Linked DNA regions of Homo sapiens: region 2 is linked to region 1. The links come from fine-mapping of genetic effects on gene expression. A gene starts in region 1. The other region holds a variant in brackets. All regions are shown on one strand. Distances are between the middles of the regions. Region 1 holds the start of REXO5 (RNA exonuclease 5). Region 2 overlaps ACSM5 (acyl-CoA synthetase medium chain family member 5).

Evidence for each region. PIP is the estimated chance that this variant, and not a neighbour inherited with it, causes the effect.
Region 2: its variant is fine-mapped to the expression of REXO5 in T cells (TOPMed, PIP 0.93).

Annotation. Positions count from the first base shown.
Region 1 is chr16:20,802,046-20,810,377 of GRCh38, forward strand. It overlaps REXO5 (RNA exonuclease 5), which reads left to right and starts at 4,482. Exons shown (of 20, transcript NM_030941.3): 1 at 4,482-4,660; 2 at 4,907-5,046. The coding sequence starts at 4,909. It overlaps ERI2 (ERI1 exoribonuclease family member 2), which reads right to left and starts at 4,427. Exons shown (of 9, transcript NM_001142725.2): 1 at 4,363-4,427; 2 at 1,558-1,625; 3 at 1,388-1,471; 4 at 751-878. The coding sequence starts at 4,385. RefSeq lists enhancers at 3,623-4,568, 4,317-4,426, 5,147-5,286.
Region 2 is chr16:20,433,415-20,441,746 of GRCh38, forward strand. It overlaps ACSM5 (acyl-CoA synthetase medium chain family member 5), which reads left to right. Exons shown (of 14, transcript NM_017888.3): 11 at 3,638-3,765; 12 at 3,854-3,953; 13 at 6,386-6,505; 14 at 6,930-7,922. The coding sequence ends at 7,013. It overlaps LOC105371119 (a long non-coding RNA gene), which reads right to left. Exons shown (of 4, transcript XR_007065019.1): 4 at 7,979-8,172. Among named protein-coding and RNA genes, the nearest start is that of ACSM2A, 14 kb to the right of the region's middle. The variant G/A (reference allele first, on the strand shown) is at 3,914.

The DNA.
Region 1 (8,332 bases):
TTTGCTTTTTAAATCGAGTCCTGAGGTGACTCACGCCTGTAATCCCAGCACCTCGGGAGGCCAAGGTGGGCAGATCACTTGAGGTCAGGAGTTCGAGACCAGCCTGGCCAACATAGTGAAACCCTGTCTCTATTAAAAATATAAAAATTAGCCAGATGTGGTGGTGTGTACCTATAGTCCCAGTTACTCAGGAAGCTGAGGCATGAGAATCGCCTGAACCCAGGAAGCAGAGGTTGCAGTGAGCCCCGCCACCTTACTCCAGCCTGGCCAACAGAGCATGCCTTTGTCTGAAAAATAAATAAATAAATACATAAATCGAGTCCTGAATCTGGAATAACACTAATCTTATTTATTTATTTACTTATTTATTCATTTATTTTCAGAGACAAAGTCTGTCACCCAGGATAGACTGAGATTATACCTCCCTGCAGCCTCAAACTCCTGGGCTCAAGTGGTCCTCCCACCTCAGCCTCAGCCTCCCAAGAAGCTGGGACTACAGACACATGCCACCAAGTCAGGCTAATTTAAATTTTTTTTTTTTTTTTTTTTAGAGATGGGGTTCTCACTATGTTGTCTAGGTTGGTCTCAAACTCCTGGCCTCAAGCAATTCTCGAACATCAGCCTGCAAAGTGCTGGGATTACAGGCATAAGCCATCATGCCTAACACTAAATAAATCTAATTTCAAATGGTATAATAACTTTTATTTTCTTTTTGAAACTGACTTCTGAATTTTAAGATTTGCATCATACCTGCTTTATGCCTGTCAATTCCATGCAAAATTCTGAAAGAATTGGATGTTCCTGAGGTTGAACATAAGCCTGGAACTCAGAGTCAATCTGTCCAGTTGATGTGTTCAGCAACACTGCTGGAAACTCAACTAAATGAAAGAATAATCAATTGACAGTTGAATAAATAATTTTTAAATTAATCCTGTAATCATCCTAAATTAAACATGTTACCATTTTAATTAAACAACCAGTTTTCAGTAAAAGCATACTAAAATGACCAAAGCAGTGTGACATAAAGGTTATAATAAAGTTATGCTAAAGTCAAAATATTGAAGTTATGAGCATGTTGTCTTAAAAGAAAACAATATAATTAAATAAATATAAAAACCATATGGAATATAAAATTTACTTTTTTTGCAAAGGCATTTTTTTCAGTTTCTATGCCATTGAGGTGTTGTATGTAATATAAAACAACTATTTTATATAATAACACATTTAGGTATTTGAGATTTTGCTCTTTTTTATTCAACATAAGTTTTGCATTAAACTACCAATGCATAGACCATCCTGTTTTCTTAAACTTTTGGCTGATTCAGATCTATAAACTTTAAAGTGACTCATCTAGTGCCAGCTTTGGCCATTCGTAGCCCAGACTTACTTATTTCCTGGCTATGGTGGTGCTTCCCATCATTCCAGCATGTCGATTCAAAATCAATGACAATTAAGTAGTCAAACAACTGCTCTGCAAAAGATCAAGTTGTTCTTATGCTTTACCAGTGCTGAAAATGCAAGGCTACAAAATGCAAAGAAACTAAGCATACTACTCACTGGATTTGCTTCTTCCGAGATTTCCATTTGCTGGCGCAATTGACTTTCTCCTAATTAATCCAAGCTGCCTAAAAATGTGAAGCAATCCAAATATGATCAATGAACTCATTCACACTCCTGTTTGAGTAGGCTACCAAACTAATGGTACTGGGCAACAATCTCATTATTTATTGTGACTGAGGGGAAATCGAACTGGACTTTGGCTTTACCTGCACAGGCCTCGAAAGTACATATTTGCAAATTAGGCTAATTTGTTGGTTTTGTTTTTGAGACAGGGTCTTGCTCTGTCACGTAGGTTGCAGTGCAGTGGTATGATCACCACTCACTACAGCCTTAATCTCCTGGGCTCAAGCAATCCTCCCACCACAGTCTCCTGACTAAGACTACAGATGCATGCCACCACGGCCCATTAGTTTTAATTTTTTTTTTTTTTTGAAGGCAGGGCCTCACTATGTTACCCAGGCTCATCTCGAACTCCTGAGCTCCAGCAATCCTCCCACCTCAGCCCCTCAAAGTGCTGGGATTACAGGCCTGAGCCACTGTGTCCAGCCAATTTACACTAATTTTATGTTACCCTTGTTTTACAGTAATACTGAGTAACTCATTTGAGTTCCTACAATCATTTGATTGTAGAGGTAAAAATGCACTGAAAATCTTATTTTTCCCCCTGCATTTTTTAAGCTCTTGCTATGTGTACAGTGCAGTTTTAAGAAGACAAGACAATGTAGGACATGGTTCAGTCTTCCAGTTTAAAAATCTGGGTAAAGAAACAAAAGATAGGGCCAGGTAAAGTGGCTCATGCCTGTAATCCCAGCACTTTGGGAGGCCAAGGCAGGTGGATTGCTTGAGCTCCGGAGTTCGAGACCAGCCTGAGCAACATGGTGAAACCCCGTCTCTACAAAAATTATAAAACCTAGCTGGGGCGTGATGGTGCATACCTGTAGTCCCAACTACTCAGGAGGCTAAGGTGGGAGGATTGCTTGAGCCCGGGAGGTGGAGACTGCAGTGAGCCGAGATCATGCCACTGCACTCCAGCATGGGCAACAGAGCGAGACCCTGTCTCAAAAAAATAAATAAATAAAATAAAATAAGAAAAAAAGAGAAGAGCTTACTGAGGTCTTAAGTGCAAGTAAAACAAACTACTTGGTATTAGCAGGTAGAGTTTTAACTAGGCAGACACCTCCTGTAGTTTTCTGTGTTTGCTAAGAGTGGGAAGTGCCAGGATTTGGGAATAATAAATATCATTTATTGACTGCTTACTACATAGCAGGTACTAAAATTAAACTAAGATGATGGCCTCCTTTAATCCTCAACAAGTGTAGTAGCTAGAAACTTTTCCTACCTATATTTTATGGATGAGAAAACTGATTCTTAATTTGCCAAAGAACATAGCTTTGGTATGTGAACCCAAGACTGTCCAATTCTGAAGCTCATGCTATTTGCTATTATATTACATCTTTCTAGTAATCAGAAATATGCACAGCGCATCCAGGAATCAGGGAGGACACAATAATTCATATTGTGAATTAAAAGGATCACTAGGCCAGGCACCGTGGCTCACACCTGTAACCCCAGCACTTTGGGAGGTTGAGGCGGGTGGATCACCTGAGGTCGGGAGTTCGAGAACAGTCTGACCAACATAGAGAAACCCCATTTCTACTAAAAATACAAAATTAGCTGGGTGTGGTGGTGCATGCCTGTAATCCCAGCTACTTGGGAGGCTGAGGCAGGAGAATGACTTGAACCCGGGAGGCAGAGGTTATGGTAAGCCGAGATCGCACCACTGCACTCTAGCCTAGGCAACAAAACTCCGTCTCAAAAAAAAAAAAAAAGATCACTAGAAAATGGGTTTGTAAAAAGTAGAGGTTCCTCTTCAAAGACTTCCTTCCCCGTCTAATTAGGAATAAATAGTAACTTCTCTTAGAGCAAAATTTATTCAAAGACCTGTGCTAACATTCTTAAATATCTGCTAGATATAATAAAGAAATCAATGTACTTTATGTTCTTAGCTCCCACAATTTAGCCTAAATATTTGCCCTGGCATGCTTATACTGGTCCAATCAAACATTAGGTCATAGCCTGTTCCTCTTCCTTACTTAAAAGTGTTTTTACCTTTCTCAGCATTCCACAAGTTACTTCCTTCTTCCTTTGTTCTCCTCTGCCTTTGCCTCTTTTAAAAAGTTCTATGTTGCTAGTCAGTCGGGACAAATACAGAATGTGAGGTCCCGTTCCAGCCAAAGGAAACCGGACACAGCAGTAGGGTGGACGCGCCACGTTATAAATGACCCTGTCTCCTTTGTTCAGTGTACTCTCCTGGCAAAACTGCTGGCGAGTGTACCCTTTCTGCAGGAAGTAAAAATGGCCTTACTAAATAAATTAAATTTAAGTTTAAGTTCTATTTCTTTACAGCACCGAGGAACGAGCATTTCGAACAGGTTGAACACCTTGACAGATTCAGTGTGTGGCCTGCCTGAGACCTCCAACCAGTCTGCAGGGCACTGTCACGTCCAGTCGTTTCCCAAGGCCTAAAATAGGCAGGCACTGGCTCAAGGCCACACAGTCAAGGCCCCAGGGTTCGTCCGCCTCGGGCTCCTGTCACCCTCGGGTAGAAGGTGGCCCAAGGCTGAAGACCGAGGTCCAGGGAGGCGCCTTTCCAACCGTGCCAGAGAGGGCAGGTCGCAGACGCCGGGGCTGCGGGGAATAGAGGCCCTCACCGCAGATGCCACCTGCCGTGCCCTGCTCTGCGGCCAACGCCAGCGCTGGACCCGGAGCTACCCGCCCCCGACCCGGAACTCCCTCGAGTACCGCGCGAGCCGCTTGGTCGCCATTCCCGACACTCCTTGCTTTTCCAAGTCCAGCTGCCGGAAGTCGCTCGACTTCTACTTCCGGTCCGTTCAAAAAGCCCGCGAGGCTGAGGGGCGGTTGTTGTTGGCAGCTGTGGCTAAGGAGGGGAGAACCTCTGCTCCCCGCCCGTCTTCTCTTCTGCGTTTCCCGGGCTAGGGGGCGTGGGGAGTGGTTTTAGGCGGCGAAGCCGCTCGGCAGCACCTTCCTTCTTTGCCAGGCAGACGCCCGTTGTAGCCGTTGGGGAACCGTTGAGAATCCGGTAACCGATGCGGACGGTAAAGCCGTTTGGGTTAGAGCGGCGCGGGTGTCCAGTCCGCGGAACGGGGAGATCGTTGGCACCTTCGCTTTTTTAGGGGAACGGGGATAGTTCGGTAAACTGAATTGAGAAGCGGATCCGAGGGAGGTTGAAAGCTGTCAAGCCCGTGTAGCTCTCCCGCTAGGAGGCGGCACGCGGGGGAATAGGGGCGCTGGAGTTTCCCCAGCTCTACCTCATCTTTCTCCACAGCCATGGAGCCAGAGAGGGAAGGGACCGAGAGACACCCCAGGAAGGTCAGGGAAAGCAGGCAGGCCCCAAATAAGCTGGTCGGGGCAGCTGAGGCGATGAAAGCCGGTTGGGATCTCGAGGAGAGTCAGCCCGAGGCCAAGGTGAGCAACGGGGATCCCGAGCAGGCGGCCCTAGGCGGTTTGGAGCTCCCGGACCCTCGCCCAACCGCCGTCGGGGGCACTGGATTCGGGCGGGCTCTCCGCCCTGGCCTCTCCGAACCTGATCCCTGATCATTAAAATGGGAATGAGTGTAATACCACCTTCCTGCAACAAGGCTGTCATTGGCTGTCACTGGGATAGTGAGTCGGCCGAGTGCGGTGGCTCATGCCTGTAATTCCAGCACTTTGGGAGGCCGAGGCGGGCGGATCACGAGGTCAGGAGTTCGAGACCAGCCTTGTCAACATGGAGAAATCCCCGTCTCTACCAAAAACACACACACAAAATTAGCCAGGCGTGGTAGTGGGTGACTGTAATCCCACCTACTTGGGAGGCTGAGGCAGGAGAATCGCTAGAACCCAGGAACCAGAGGTTGCAATGAGCCAAGACCACGCCATTACACTCCACCCTGGACAACAAGAAAGAAATCACGTCTCAGAAAAAAAAAAAAAAAAAAAAAAACTGGGATGGTGGGCCGGGTGCAGTGGCTCACGCCTGTAATCCCAGCAGTTTGGGAGGCCAAGGCGGGAGCATCATTTGAGGCCAGGAATTCAAGACCAGCCTGGGCAATATAGCAAGGACCCCATCTCTTAAAAAAAAAAAACAAAAAACAAAACAAAAAAAAAACTGCCTGTACATAATAGGAATGTTCATCGATATCCTGGGGCACAAAAATACAATTCCTTGCCCTCGTGCAGTTTACATTCCAGTAGGGCGGGGGTCCCCAACCCCCTGTGCACAGACTAGTACCTGCCTGTCCATGGGGTCCCCAACCCACTGTCCACAGCTGGCCTGTTAGGAACCGGGCCACAAAGCAGCAGGAGGTGAGCGGTGGCCGATAGAACGTTACCCCCTGAGCTCCACCTAGGCATTAGATTCTCATAGGAATGTGCCAAACCTATTGTGAGCCCTATTGTGAACTTTGCATACGAGGGTCCTAGGTGGCATGCTGCTTATGAGACTCTAATGATAAATGTAATGCACTTGAATCACCCCGAAACCATCCCCCCAGCCCTTCTCCCAGTCAGTGGAAAGATTATCTAACACGAAACCGGTCCCTGGTGCCAACGGTTGGGGACCGCTGCAATAGGGGAATAAAAAGGCTGATTATCCCTATCATCCTTACCATTTACTGAGAACTAAATATACTTCATTCATCCCTTCAGTCGTTCATTGGGCTTTTTTGTTTGTTTTTGTGTTTGAGACAGGGTCTCTGCTCTGCTGGACTCAGGCTGGACTACAGTGGTGTGACAAGGATCCTCCTGTCTCTGCCTCTTACAGGCATGAGCCACTGCACCCAGCTATTCATTGGTTTTTATTGTCTGCCATGTGCTGGGGCACTGACCTAGGTGCTTGGGGTACATCAGTGAATCAAGTTCACTGCCCTAGTAGGTCTTATATTCTAGTGGGCAGAGACAAATGATAAAAATAAGTTATAATATGTGAGAGAGGGATTAGGGATGTGATTTTTTTTTTTTTTTTTTTTTTTGAGGTGGAGTCTCCCTCTGTTGCCCAGGCTGGATTTGGCTCACTGCAACTTTTGCCTCCCAGGTTGAAGTGATCCTCCCACCTCAGTTCCACCAATTAGATGGGACTACAGATGTGTGCCACTGTGCCAGCTAATTTTTCTTTTTTTTGTAGAGACGGGGTTTTGCCATGTTGCCCAGGCTGGTCTTGAACTCCTGGACTTAAGCGATCTGTCCACCTTGGCCTCTGCAAGTTCTGGGATTACAGGCATGAGCCACTGCTTTTTTTTGTTTTTTTTTCGTTTGTTTTTTTTTAAAGAGAGACAGGGTCTCCAACTCCTGGGATCAGGAGATTCACCTGCCTCAGCCTCCCATAGTGCTGGGGATTACATGTGTGAGCCACTGCACCCAGCTGAAAATTTTTTTTATTAAAGTGGGATTCCAGTTTTTTTGCCTATCAAATTTGCAAAAAAATGTTTAATGTTTATGTGGTTAGTGTAAGGAGATTGACAATCACATATTTTGTTATGTTGAAACAATCTCAAACTTTTAGAAAAGTTGTAAGAATAGTATCAAAACCTCCCCTCAACCAACATTTGAAAGTAGTTGCTGACACAATGGTCTTTTTCTACCCACCCTCAAGATATTTTATTATATATTCTCTATAAACCTACATAATCACAATGCAACCATCAAAATTGGAAATTACCATGGATATATCATGACCATCTACTCCTCAGATGCCATCCAAATTTTCTGTAGTTGTTTGAATAACGCTTTTTAGCAATAAGATCCAGTCTAGAATTGTGTTAAATTTAATTGTCATGTCTCCATCAAACAGTTCCTTAGTCTTCCCTTGATATTCATGACTTTACTGCATTTGAATAATCCTGGGCCAATTATTTTGTTGAATGTCCCTTAAATTAGATTTGTCTGTTTCTTCATTGATTAGATTCAGGTTATATACATCTTTAGCAGGAATATCACAGGAGTGATACTCTGCTCCCTTGCAGATTGTACACAATTTGATTTGTCCCATTATTGGTGATATTAACCTTGATAACTAGATTAAGATAGTTTCTACTAAAGTTCTCTAAAGTTATCTTTTTCTCTGTGTAATTTTCATTCTTATTTTTTTGAGACAGGATCTTGCTATATTGCCCAGGCTAGTCTGGAATTCCTGGGCTAAAGCAATCCTCCCACCTCAGCCTCAGTGTAGCTGAGGTTACAGGCCCAAGCCACTGCTCCCAGCTGTCTGTAATGTGCTTCCTCAAACACTTTGGGCTTATGCATTTACTTTTTTATCAGTATGATGAACTCAGTGGTACCTATTTTGTTCAGTGTGTTACTATCTTTTACTGGATTGTGATGCTTTAAATATCCAAGATTTTGTCATTAAGCTAGCTTCTGTGGCCTTTTGACATGACAACATCATTCTTTGAGCATGTCATTACTTTCTGGCACAAGAAGATATTCCAGGCTCATATGTGCTTTCCCTGCCCCAAGCCTGGAATCAGTCATTTCTCTTAGGGTACCTGGTTCTTTTTAGTGTAGAATGATATTTAGATTTGGGTGCTATGGTGATGTTAATACAGATGCTTCTTCACTTAAAATAAGATTACGTCCCAATAAATCCATCGTAAATTGAAAATTTTGTAAGTTGAAAGTGTATACACACACACATACTTACATTTAAATATTTTTCTGTATTTTACTTATGTGAATTCACATCAGTATCTCCACTTTAATCCAAATCCAGTAATAC
Region 2 (8,332 bases), 370 kb before region 1:
CCTAGGGAAACAAATTATCAAATGCACAAATATTTGTTATAGTGCTGGCTGTTTATAACAGATAAAAAAGGTGGAGGGACTATCTAAATTTCTAATATCAGAAATTAGTTATGTAAAGGATTATATTATAGCATTGTGAACAAAAGCAAAAAAACAAAAGAAAAGGAGAAAAAGAAGAGAGAAAAAATTTTAAAAAAAGAATCCAGGAATTTGTTCAAATGCATAATATCACCACCACACAGAAATATTATGCAACTATTTAATACAATTTTTTTTTGGAAGCAGGGTCTCCTTCTGCCACCAAGGCTGGAGTGCAGTGGCACAATCATGGCCACTGCAGCTTTGACTTCCTGGGCTCAGCTGATCCTCCCACCTCAGCCTCCTGAGTAGCTGGAACTACAGGCACATGCCACCACACCTGGCTAATTTTTTTTTTTTTTTTTGTAAAGATGGGGTTTCACCATGTTGCCTAGGCTGGTTTTGAATTCCTGGGCTCAAGTGATCCACCTGCCTCAGCCCACCAAAATGCTATGATTACAGGCATGAGCCACCACTCCCAGCCTATAGGAGTTCTTAATATATTCTTGATATCGGTCCTTTGTTTGTTTTAAGAGTTGCTAACATCTTCCTCCTTGGTTGTAGCTTATCTTTTCACTTTCTTTCACTTTCTTTAAGCTATTTTTGTTGAACAGAAGCATTTATTTCCATGTCATCAAATCATTAAGTTTTTAAATGTTATGGATAGTGCTTTTTGTGTCTTATAAAATCATTTTCAACTTTAGGGTAGAAAATACACATATTCAATAGTTTCTTCCAATAGTTTTATAATTCTGCTTTTGACATTTAAGTTTATAATCCATCTGTGGTTGATGTATGCATGATATGAGATAGGGGTCTATTTTATTTTTTTCTATATGAAAAGCCAATTTGTTGAATAAATCCTCCTTTTCCCAGTTATCTGTCATGCTAATTTTGTCAGATATAAAAGTTTAATATAGGCCAGGTGTGGTTGCTCACGACTGTAATCCTAGCACTTTGGGAGGCCAAGGCTGGTGGATCACCTGAGGTCAGGAGTTCGAGACCAGCCTGACCAATATGGTGAAACACCCTCTCTACTAAAAATACAAAAATTAGCTGGGTGTGGTGGCGGGCACCTGTAGTCCCAGCTACTTGGGAGGCTGAGACAGGAGAATTGCTTGAACCCGGGAGGCAGAGGTTGCAGTGAGCTGAGATCACACCACTGCACTCCAGCCTGGGCAATAGAGTGGGACTCCATCTCAAATAAATAAATCATTTTTTAAAAGTTTGATATAGTCATACATAGGCTTTGGCACTTTCTTGTATTTCCTTGATCACTTACTCTGTCTCTGTACTGATACCATAAAGTCTTATCCACAAAAGCATTACCATAAGTCTTCACATGTGGGAGAACAACTCTAACCTTGTTATTCAACTCATTTAGAAGTGTTTTACCTATTCTTAGCCCTTTGCTCATTCATTTGTATTTTAGAATCAACTTGTCAAGTTCCTTGGAAAATGTTTGCTAGCATTTTGATTAGAATTGTATTGCCTATAAAACAACTTAGGGATAATTGACATCTCTATTAATTAAGTCTTTTTTGTTTTGTTTTGTTTTGAGGCAGAGTCTTGCTCTGTCACCCAGGCTGGAGTGCAGTGGTGTGATCTTGGCTCACTGCAGCCTCCGCCTCTCGGGTTCAAGTGATTCTCCTGCCTCAGCCTCCCAAGTAGCTGGGATTACAGGCGCCTGCCGCCACACCTGGCTAGTTTTTGTATTTTTAGTAGAGATGGGGTTTCTCCATGTTGGCCAGGCTGGTCTTGAACTTCTGACCTCAGGTGATCCACCTGCCTTGGCCTCCCGAAGTGCTGGGATTATAGGCATGAGCCACTGCACCAGGCCGATTAAGTCTTTCTTTCACTTTATTTATATCTTCTTTAATGTTGTGTAGAGTTTTAAGTTTTCTCCATACACATCTCAGAGATTTTGTGTTAGATGTATTTTTAGGGTAGCTTATATTTTTTCTTTTTTCTCAGAAGGTCCTTGTTGAATTGAGATATAATTTACCTACAGTAAAATTCACCCACGTTAAGTGTGTAAGTCAATGACTTTTAACACATGTCCGCCCCTGTGTAACTGCCACCACAGTCGAATAGGGAACATTTTTCACTCCCTTGACAGGCAATCCTCTCCACTCCAGACCCAGCGATTGATACATTGTTTGTCGTCAGTATATAATAATTTTGCATTTTTAAAAAAGAACTTCATGTAAATGGAATCACAAACTATTCCAGTTTATCTGTCTGGGTTCTTTTACTCAGTATGATGTTTCTGCAAGTCATCTGTGTGGTTTCATGTATTTTTATTGCTGAGTAGTAGCTTTTTCTTTGAAACTTTGAGAATCAGAGTTTCATTGTTTTTCTCTTTCCTCTACTCTTGCCCCACACCAATGAGCTTTTTGGTGAGCCCTTCTCCCACCCTCCCTTTCTTTCTTTCTTTCTTTTCTTTCCTTCCTTCCTTCCTTCTTTCCTTCTTTCTTCCTTCCTTTTTTCTTTCTTTCTTTTCTTTCTCTTTCTTTCTTTTTTCTTCATTCTTTCTTTCTTTTTCTTTCTTTCTCTTTCTTTCTCTTTTCCTTCATTCCTTCTTCTTCCTTCCTTCCTTTTCTCTTTCTTTCTTTCTTTTTCTCTTTCTTTCCTTCCTTCCTTTCTTTTCCTTCTTCCCTCCCTCCCTTCCTCCTTTCCTCCCTCCCTTTTCTTCTCTCTTTCTTTTCTTCCTTCTCTTCCCTTCTCTTCCCTTCCCTTCCCTCCCCACTCTCCTCTCCCCTCCCCTCCCGTCCCCTCCCCTCCCCTTCCTTTCCTTTGTTTCCTACTTGAAGTCTTGCCCTGTAGCCCAGGCTGCAGTGCAGTGGCACAATCTTGCAATCTCATCCTGTAGCCCAGGCTTGAGTGCAGTGGTGCAATCTCACAGCCTCGCCCTATAGCCCAGGCTGGAGTGCAGTGGCACAATCTCAGCTCACTGCAACCTCTGCCTCCCAGGTTTAAGCAATTCGCCTGCCTCAGCCTCCCGAGTAGCTGGAATTACAGGCATGCACCACCACACCCAGCTAATTTTTTTGTCTTTAGTAGAGACAGGTTTTCACTATGTTGGCCAGCTGGTCTCGAATTCCAGACCTCAAGTGATCCACCCACCTCAGCCTCCCACAGTGCTGGGATTATAGGGATGAGCCACCACACCCGGCCTAGCCCTTCACTTTCTACCCTCAGTGATTCCTGAGCACAAAGAGTATTCATGTGTTCTCTTGTCCTAAAAACCACAGCCAGTGGCCCTGTGCCCACCCTCCTGCTTTCAACTATGCTTTCTAGACCCCCTTCTAAGGATGGTGGTGGGTGACTGCCCTTAACCATTGGCTGGCAGCTTGATTCCAATCAAAAGAGGGAAATCCCACAACTAAACAGGGCCATAACTCCCTGTCCATTGGGGAACTCTGGGCAGCCGGGACTTTAGGAACTGCTGAACTTTCTGTTGAGTGGTCTCCAGCTTCCTACAGGGGGCTACTGGGGCAGTAACTGGCCTTAGCAGTTGTTCCCAGAGGGTCCTTCACGGGTTGTCTTTGTCTTTCAGGACAATCCTGAGAAGACAGCTGCATCAGAACAAGGGGACTTTTACATCACAGGGGACCGAGCTCGCATGGACAAGGATGGCTACTTTTGGTTCATGGGAAGAAACGACGATGTGATCAATTCTTCAAGGTCAAGCTGTCTGCACTTTCCTCCTTCCTTTGAAATTTCATGGGGGTTGAGGGAAGCCCACTTGGAAGAGTTTGTTTTTCCCTTCCAGCTACCGGATCGGGCCTGTTGAAGTGGAAAGTGCCCTGGCAGAGCATCCTGCTGTCCTGGA[G/A]TCGGCTGTGGTCAGCAGCCCAGACCCCATCAGGGGAGAGGTAACCAGTGCACCCAAGAACATGGCCTCCTGCTTCTGTACCTATTAGCACCCAGCAGAACAAGCAGGAAGGCTCAGATTGTCCTGTATTTCACCTCCATCCTTGTGCCACAAAGTTGAAATGCCACCATCAGACACACGTTGCCTTCATGTCTTTAGAGATACAATTACTCTCTAAAGGGACATAATGGGAAAACACCAACACTTTGCTTTTAAATGGACACAACTACATCCCAGAGAGGCTGGCTATGGGGCAGGAGATCTTGGGGGAGGTGCAGGCTCTGTTATCCATCCTGTCTAATAAAAAGTCTTTTCTATTTGCAGATGAGGACATAGCAAGCACACCAGTAATAGTTGCTGATGGCTGTAACCTAAGAGGGATAGAATATGTATCCAAAATGACCTACATATACCAGAAAGATGGGCCAAATTTAATAAGCTGGGCTTTCATAGGAGAAATCCTTTTTTTTTTTTGAGATGGAGTCTTGCTGTGTTGTCCAGGCTGAAGTGCAGTGGCATGATCTTGGCTCACTGCAACCTCCGCCTCCCAGGTTCAAGTGATCTTCCTGCCCCAGCACCCCCCCCAGTAGCTGGGATTACAGGCACATGTCACCACACCTGGCTAATTTTTGTATTTTTAGTAGAGACAGGGTTTTGCCTTGTTGGCCAGGCTGGAGGTCTTAAACTCCTGACCTTAGGTGATCCACCCACCCCGGCTCCCAAAGTGCTGGGATTACAGGCGTGAGTCACCGTGCCCGGCTAGGAGAAATCTTTCTGTGGGTCCCAGAGGAATGCATATTATGGGAAAGATCAGCTAACAGGCAGACTTAGGTACTTTTCACTGGCTTACATCCAACATAATCCTAAAGCACAACAGTTACCTTTTGAAAGTTAGTGCAACATTAGCCTGCATTCTCAGAAGCATCAAGACCACAGGAGAGATTCTCAAAGTCTGGTTCTTGGACTGCTTGCAACTGTATCATCTGAGATTCTTGTTTAAAATATAGATTTGTAGACCTAAAGTCAGACTTACCAAATCATGATTACTGGGAATGCAGCCCAGAGAATCTGCATTTTAGCCAGCCATTCTTGGCCAAGTGATTCCCCTCTAAAATCCAAAGCCATTAATGTATAATAAGGGAGGTGTGGAGTCCCATTGATGTGCTGAAGAAATCATACCTCAAACGTATGCCTAGTTCTGCATGCCGTGAGTTAACTGGGACTGTGACAAATGGCTGTGTGCTCAAACTTAATCCATGTATGGTGCTTAGAACTGAGTCTGGTGTGTAGAAAGTGCCCAACACATAAGCCGGACACGGTGGCTCATGTCTGTAATCCCAGCACTTTGGGAGGCCGAGGCGGGTGGATCACGAGGTCAGGAGATCGAGATCATCCTGGCTAACACAGTGAAACCCCATCTCTACTAAAAATACTAAAAATTAGCCAGGCGTGGCGGTGGGCGCCTATAATCCCAGCTACTCGGGAGGCTGAGGCAGGAGAATGGCGTGAACCCAGGAGGCAGAGCTTGCAGTGAGCCGAGATCACCTCACTGAGCTCCAGCCTGGGCGACAGGGTGAGACTCTGTCTTAAAAAAAAAAAAAAAAAAAAAAAAGTGTCCAACAAATGTTTCGTAGTTACAGTAGTAAGAGTAAGAGGAAGCTCTTTCTAAAAGCATATCTGTCTGAACATGAAATGATAGTGGCCTTCCTCCCTGTGGGAAGTATGCAAGGACAGTGAGCTACCCCTTTAATAGAATACTGTTAACAGATAGGAATGCTGGAATTAATAAGCATCCAAGTGACCTTCCATTCCTAACAGAAACTATGTTTGTTGTGCTTGAGTCTGGGACACTTCCTCCTGCCTGGCATAAGACAGCCTGCAGGAAAGTTGTGGGCAGAGAGACCCAAGATGCAGAATGTCCCTCGGGATGTCTGGAACAGAAGTGGTGCAGTTCAGGGTCTGCTGATTGCAAATGTTCATCCACGCAGACCCCCAAAGACCTAGTTCCCCTTGCAAGTGCCTGCATTTTCCTCAATCCCACCTGTTCAAACTCATGCCTACCTACCTTTCTCATTAGGAAAATCTGGAAGAAAATGGCCCTAGGAGTTTATGAACCTCTTTTCTCCAAAATATTTGCTTCTTAAGAGAAGCGATGTTGGCTTCAAATGGTGTCATTCCAAGTATGGGGAGTAATTTGAGAAAGAGGTAGGAGTTTGAAATCATCCCAGAAAGGTCAATCCTCCTAATAGTCACACCTGGAAGGGCCAGCAAAAGAAAAATTGATGTTGTTTGTGTCATTGGCTGTGCCCAAAAAAAACTAGTAGAACTTTCATGGTGCAAAGGTAAATGTAGGCACTTATTCAAGCCTCACTTAAGGAGAAAAGAGTTGTTATACGAGGCCTGATCTTTTCTGGGTATTTTGTTTTCCTGCAGGTGGTAAAGGCATTTATAGTCCTTACTCCAGCCTACTCCTCTCATGACCCAGAGGCACTAACGCGGGAACTCCAGGAGCATGTGAAAAGGGTGACTGCTCCATACAAATACCCCAGGAAGGTAAATATCAGGGTTTCCAGGGCACAGTGATCTGGGAATCAGATGGGCACGCTCTGCCTGGGCTCCCACTCAGAGCCAGGCCCTGTGCCAGGCACTGGGGATATGGAGAAACTTGTAACCCTGGCTGCTGCTTCAGCTTTTTTCTGTATTTCTTCACTTGGATTCTCCCCAAAGCACATTTTGTTCCTACTCTAAGAACAGCCTGATCCCTACCACAAATCAGATACAAGAGGTAGTGCTCAAATGCTGTCAAAATGATCCTGTGCTCCAGGCTCCAGCTGTTTTGCTTCTGGCCATTTAGGGGGAAACCCTGAATCAGGGACGCTTTCCAAGGACAGGCAGACAGTATTGTCTCTTTCAAAACAAAAGTCTTTTTGAGAAATGATGATTTCCAAGTGTTTTTTGTTTTGTGTTTGGTCACTAGGTGGCCTTTGTTTCAGAACTGCCAAAGACGGTTTCTGGAAAGATCCAAAGGAGTAAATTGCGAAGTCAGGAGTGGGGGAAATGAGGTGCACCCCAGGAAGGCCCCGTAGACCTCCGAAGACTCCACAAGAAACTAATGGATCACTGGTCAGTCCCCATGGGGAGCATCATCTCTTCGACCCTAAAGATGTCAAAGGTGTGCAGCTTCCAAACGGCATCCCCAGGATCACTGGGCAATGCTGGAAAGAGCAAAAGAATATCATTGGCCCTGATCACATAGATGCTGCGCCGCCTAGCAAATGCTTGGTGGTTCGACTTCTCCCTCTGTCTGGGGGCAGGCTCAGCATCTGCCCACTGGTCTCACTAAGAGCTTTCAGATTTCCCTCCATAGGACAGGTTACCATAGACTTGGGGCACTTGTGGGTACTCATTTTCTGCCAGTGGGAATGTAAAGGCTTCATCCTTTGTATGTAACCATTTGGCAAAAGTATGCAGGAACATAAAATAAAATATCCTTTAGCTCAGAAATTCTATCTTCGGGAGTCACCACAAAAGAAAAAAATCAAAATGCAGAAAATGTGTGGTGCACTAAGATGATCACACAGCATTAAAACTAAAAAAAAAAAAGAAAAAATTAACAATTAACATCCAAACAACAAGGAAATGATTAACAAAATTGTAGTAGATTAACTCAATTACATATGATGTAGCCACTAAAATATTTGAGAGCAGTTTAGTATGTCTTGGGAAAAGTGTAAGCTATATTAATTTTAAAAATCAGAGCAAAAATATTCATACTGGAGAATCCCAACTCTGAAAAATAAAGGGAAAACTGTGGTTAATTGTAATCCTCCTGGAGATTGAGGAGGGAGGGAGAGAAAATAATGGATGGTAGTTTTTCTTCTTCCTTTTTCCATTACATTTCTGTATTTTCCAAGTTTTTGTACGAAGCACATACAACTATTTTAATGAAAAAGTTATGTTAAAGAAAGCACACTCTGCTTCATGTCTAGTTCTTCCTCCACATACTCATACATCATCCCCAAAGACTGCTGTATTATGTCTGTATTAGTCAGCATTCTCCAGAGAAAGAGAAGCAATAGGACATATTTAGACACAGGAGAGGGGATTTATGATGGGAATTGGCTCACTCGATTTTGGAGGCTGAGAAGTTCCACAATCTGCCATCTGCATGCTGGAGACCCAGGAAACCCCGTGGTATAATTCCATCTGAGTCCAAAGACCTGAAAACCAGAAGAGCCAATGTTATAACTCCCTGTCCGAGTGCAAAGGATCGAGAACCAGGAGCTTCACCGTCTGAGGACAAGAAAACACAGATGTTCTAGCCCAAAAGGAAGGAGCAAATTCCTCTTTTCTCCTTTTTCTCCTCTTCATGCCCTAATG